Linked DNA regions of Homo sapiens: region 1 is linked to region 2. Evidence: fine-mapped expression QTL. A gene starts in region 2. The other region holds a variant in brackets. All regions are shown on one strand. Distances are between the middles of the regions. Region 1 overlaps IGF2BP2 (insulin like growth factor 2 mRNA binding protein 2). Region 2 holds the start of LIPH (lipase H).

The links. PIP is the estimated chance that this variant, and not a neighbour inherited with it, causes the effect.
Region 1: its variant is fine-mapped to the expression of LIPH in whole blood (TOPMed, PIP above 0.99).

The regions. Positions count from the first base shown.
Region 1 is chr3:185,736,680-185,739,607 of GRCh38, reverse strand. The region is part of intron 2 of IGF2BP2 (insulin like growth factor 2 mRNA binding protein 2); the gene reads left to right. Among named protein-coding and RNA genes, the nearest start is that of IGF2BP2-AS1, 25 kb to the right of the region's middle. The variant G/A (reference allele first, on the strand shown) is at 1,715.
Region 2 is chr3:185,551,269-185,554,196 of GRCh38, reverse strand. LIPH (lipase H) reads left to right here and starts at 1,609. Exons shown (of 10, transcript NM_139248.3): 1 at 1,609-1,774. The coding sequence starts at 1,726. RefSeq lists an enhancer at 1,520-1,599.

The sequences.
Region 1 (2,928 bases), 190 kb before region 2:
TCTGTCCTCATCACGGGACAGCATCAGTGTGTCTGCTCCTGGCCAAATTCAGCTGCATTCCGGCAGGTGGTAGTGATTCCTGAGGAGCCAGGAGAAAGCCAGGCTGTCATTTAGATTCAAGGGAAGATCTATTTGCCTTTTGATAACAGAAGGGTTTAGGAAGACATTTGAGCCATACGGCACAATTTGAAGGACTTAGTTTAAAAGAAAATAATTGACAGAGTAATTGGAATGCTATCTTTTTACAGTTTATAAAGAGGCCCCTTTGTATGTGTTTTTCTGCCAATTCTGTTTAAATGCCCTGCAATTTAAACACACTGAGGATTAGAGACCAGCAGTGATGTTTGGGCTTTGAAAATTCCAGGACAGGTTAGAGGCTTGTAACCTAGTACAGTTGCAATGGCCGTTTCGTTTTGTTTTAAGTCCACCGTTGTAATCCCTATTCCACAAGAGTATATTTTTCAGAACGCTGCTAAATCCCAGACATGGATATTTATATATGCCACCAAAGATATGTGAAAACACATATAAAAGGGCAGCTTTTAGGAATATTTTTATTATTTGAAAATTGATCTGATGTCATTAATCATTTCTTGTGCTATTTTTTAAACTGGGTTTTGTGACTTTTTTTGTAGCTCCAATTGATTTAATTTTGTAGGAGTGGAAAGGAAAGTTATTCATCTTAACTTATAGATATTCCCACTTTACCTGAGAAAGTATTTAAGGATCTTTAAGGATTAAAGGTCCTCTTCAAGCTTGACAATCTAAGTTTTAAAGTTTGTATTTAGCAAAATTATTGTTTAATACTTGTTTTTATAAAACAGCATTCTCTGTGAAGGAAGCAGCAGTGATCTTGTGCCCTTTGTTGGATGAAGTACCAGGAATATTTTCTGATTGCTTTCTCCAGGGACAGAAATGCAACTGTAAATGATAGAGATTAAAACAATAAAACTGCCCAGTGAGGCTTAGCCCTGAATTGCTAAACCTTCATATAATAAAACATTTTCTGAGAGAGGATGGTAGTGGCTGCAAAGACCAACAACTGGTTCCTCTGCCTGGATTCATCTCTTTCGTTCTCCCCTCTCTGGTTAAGACTTGCTCATCCTTCAAAACCCAGCTCGGATATTGCCACCTCCCTGAAGCCCTTCCTGACTCCCCTAGGCTGTTCCTGCCTCCGTCTTCTGTGTTGCTTTTATACTTTTCATGTTCTCAAGGAAGGACCTCTGCCCACAGTGCTCTATAATTAGTTCTGTAATTATTAGTGTTTATCTTTTACACTAGATTATGAGCCCTTTAAAGGCAGGATCTGGGACTATTTCATCTTTGTGGTTTAACCCCCAGTTTTATTGCCTGGAAAATAATAGGCACTCAGTTAATGTCTTTTGAAGTACTAAAGATTCTGTTGAATACTTACCACAAGGCGACATCAAAATAGATAGCAAGTGAGGATACTTAATCTTGGTAGAAATGAATTTATTTTAGATTTTTTCATGCCTTTATTTATGAATTCTAAAAGCAATTCATTAGATTTGGAATAAAGATAATATCCAGTGTTGGCAATGGCCTGGTAATACACTGTTAAACATTGGCAGTGAGGGTAGAAATTGGCACACTCTTTCTGGGAAACTATTTGGAAATTTGAGGCCTAAATATGGTCACACCCTTTGACCTAGTAATTCTGTTTCTCAGAATCTACTCTAAAGAAATAATAAGA[G/A]ATCACCACAATGTTATAAAGCATAATCCAAGAGACAGCAGGAACAGCTTCCTGATATTCTGTGATCCAAACCAAGTACTGAGTGTCTAAGAACTGGGGATGACCATCATAACTTCTCGAGGTCTTTGCTTCATGTTCTCCCACATTGTCTAGTCTGTCTTCTTGTGTAGAGTAGAAGTTAAGTAAATACTTGTAGTAAATGGATAAATAATTCTTTGAAGTTGAAATGTAAAGCACTCAATGTATAGAATAATGTAACTGTTACTGCGAATGCCACTATCAGATTTAACAAGTTATTTGACATACTTGTTTCCAATTTTTTTGTTTATGTTTTTAATATTGTGCAAATACTATATGCACACATTCTTTGTGCACATTTACTTTATAATCTGCAAAGTGATTTTATATTTTATACTCTCTTTTGATCAAGCCAAAAAAGGTGTTACTCCCATGTTATAAAAGGGAAAACTGAGGCTTGGAGCAGATCCAGGACTAGAACTACCACTTTTGACTCCCAGTCCAATATTTTTTCACAGTAGGAGTCTTTGGAGAACTCTTAGGAAACAAGGAGCACCTAGAATGTTTATTAAGGGAGGGTGTACATCAGCTCCAGAAAGATGTTGACAGATTGGAAGGAATTTAAAGAGGAGCCAACGCTGCTGGAAGGAAGGACATAGGAGAGATGAAAGGAATTTAATATGTATAGCTTGGCCAACGGATGATTAAAGGGGATATGATAACAGTCCCTAGGAATGTGAAGGATGTAAACATCATGGAAAGAGAAAATGTATTTAGAATCAATCAAAGCAGTATATAAAAAGAAATACAAATTAATGCGAAACATCACAAAAAGCCATTTTCATGGTGACACTTGTTAGCTTGTAAATTAGAGTCCCAAGACAAGTATCAAAAGCCCTTCTAAGACATTTAGGACTAAGTTATTCTGCCTAGATTTGGGGAGGGCTGTTCCATTTCTAATTTTGATGGCTGAGATCATGTCCCTTCCTAGCATAGATTTGCCACCCAGTACTGATGGCACAGTTTTGCGTATCAGGGTCAAAAGGAAAACTCTTGTTACAATCTGTGGAAGCCAAATTCAGGCATGTCCCCAACATTGTGCAGTCCGACATCGCAGAGACTGCCCGTGAAGCCTAACTTGAAACCCTAAGTGTTGAGCTCATTAACTCTGCCATCAGATGACTGATTCCCCACCT
Region 2 (2,928 bases):
TTATTTATTTATTTATTTATTTAGAGACGGGGTCTCACTCTGTCACCCAGGCTGGAGTGCAGTGGTATGATTTTGGCTCATGGCAACTTCCTGCTTCCTGGGCTCAGGTGATCCTCCCACTTCAGCCTCCTTAGTAGCTGGGACCACAGGTGCACTAAAGAATGTCTGTATTTTTTTTCAGAGATGGGTTTTTGCCATGTTGCCCAAGCTGGACTGGAACTCCTGGGCTCAAGCGATCCACCCCCTTCAGCCTCCCAAAGTGCTGAGATTACAGGCATGAGCCACCGCGCCCAGCATATTAATGTTTTTTATTATTTTTTATTTATTTATTTTTTTTGAGACGGAGTCTCGCTCGGTTGCACAGGCTGGAGTGCAGTGGAGCGATCTTGGCTCACTGCAAGCTCCGCCTCCCAGGTTCACGCCATTCTCCCGCTTCAGCCTCCCGAGTAGCTGGCAGGCGCCCGCCACCACGCCCGGCTAATTGTATTTTTAGTAGAGAGGGGGTTTCACCGTGTTAGCCAGGATGGTCTCGATCTCCTGACCTCGTGATCCGCCCGCCTCGGCCTCCCAAAGTGCTGGGATTACAGGTTTGAGCCACCGCGCCCGGCTTATTAATTGATTTTTAAGCTCATCAGACCACTAGAAGCCTGAGTTAGTGTTGCAAGCACTCTCGCCAGAAAGGGAATTAAATTACCTTGGAGCTATGAAGCACAAGTTTAGTTACCTCTATCCCTGAGATACATAGATTCTGGCATGGGGTTCTATTTGAAAGTTTTTCATTTATTTTTCCTTTTTATTTATGTATTTATTGTTTGAGACAGTCACTCTGTCGCCCAGGCTGAAGTGCAGTGATGTGACCTGGACTCATTGCAACCTCTGCCTCCCGGGTTCAAGCAATTCTTGTGCCTCAGCCTCCTGAGGTAGCTGGGATTACAGGTGCGTGTCACCACACCCGGCTAATTTTTGTAATTTTAGTAGAGACGGTTTCGCCATGTTGGCCAGGCTGGTCTCAAACTCCTGACCTCAAGCAGTCCACCCGCCTCAGCCTCCCAAAGTGTTGGGATTACAGGCGTGAGCCACCGTGCCGGCCTGTTTTTCTTTTTTAAAAAAGACCTATTAGAGCTGTAGAAATTCTCGGTAGGAAGAAATACAAATAAAGATATATAATACCAAAAAAAGTTTCTTTTAATCTGAAGCATACATATATTTTGGCAAATGTAGATGTATAATTGGACCTAATGAAATGTTCTTAAAATCTAAAGACTGCCCTATGATGAATGAGTGTATGAATTAACATAAAAACTGGTTTTGTATATACAGGCCAACAGATACAAACTGGATTTGTTATTTCATTCACAAGAACCAAGGGGAAAAGATCTCAAGTCACACTTGGTTTCAACACACCAAGCCAAACAACTAATAAACCGCCCACGAAGAATGAAACTATTCTGAACTCGTCATTCTGCAGATGCAGATTATAATATTAAGATATGCACAAAATTGTATAAAGTAGACAATGAGTGACCTTTTATTGAAAAGAGGAGGAGTCAAAGATCCTGAAAGGGTTGGGACTGCCTGCAGTCAGTCCCTAGGGAACTTCCTGTTGTCACCACACCTCTGAGTCGTCTGAGCTCACTGTGAGCAAAATCCCACAGTGGAAACTCTTAAGCCTCTGCGAAGTAAATCATTCTTGTGAATGTGACACACGATCTCTCCAGTTTCCATATGTTGAGATTCTACTTATTCATCAGTTTGTTGTGCTTGTCAAGATCAGGTAGGTTATTTACAAACTGGTTTTCTTAACTGCTTAAAAAATAGAATTAGTTGTGTTGTCATTTTGCATGTCATCATTCCACTTCCTTCGGTGAACTTAAGTCCATAGAGTCGTTTTTAAGGAAAAAGATATAGGAAGCCTGTATCATTTCCTTAACATTTCCTTAAAAAAAAAAAAAAAAGATACAGGTTAGATGAACTTTCTCATCCTGAAAAAAATTTCTCAATAATAAAAGAAGCTATTATGTCTTTGAATTAATTTCTTCTTATTTACAACAATCAAATATGCTGAAAAATCTAGAAGTCTTATTTTCTTTCTTAGCCTATTTATCTGTGCCTTTCTAGTTCTGTGAAATGAGATGATTTATTTTCTGGAAATATAAAAATCTATCTTATATTTAATATATCAAGGGTTGGTTTTTATATTTTCATGCATTGAGAGTTTATTTAAATTATTCTTAGAGAAAACATAATTTTATATAGATAAACTCCTTGGAATGGTTCCTGGCATTCTTATAACTTAAAAATTATTAATCATAATGAAGAAATCAAAATTAAAACCCTAATGTACCAGATAATGTAACAAAAATAAAGTGAAATGCTTAAAAAAATAAAATTCAACACTTTGCAACCTTTTTAGGTATTCAGTTTTGTTTCAGATAGCTGTGGTAATGAAGGTTGATATAATTTTTTTGAAGGGCAAAGGGTAAATATGTTATATATTAAGACTTGTAAAAATGTTCATATACTTTAAGCTAGTAAAACCATTGCTGGGAATTTATTCTAAATGCATAACTTTTAAAAGAAAAAAGCCTCCTATGCAGAGATAAGTCTAACTATATTACTTGCAATAACTTGAAACTAGATATAACCAAAATGTTTCTACATACAGGAATGGATAAAAGACAGTATATCAACTTAATTTTTTTAAAGTAGCCTTTCAACTGATTCTGATGATATGCAGAAATAAGCAAACATTTTTAAAGTAATGCAAAGTAGAAAAAGTAGAACTTAAATTTGTTGGTAAACTATAATTACAACTATGTTAAAATCATGTATGTATGCATATGTGAATGAAGTTTAGAAGGGAAATGGAAAAATAGTATTAGGATTTCTGGCCTATAAATTTTTCTTTATATATGGTTTTGAAGTTGA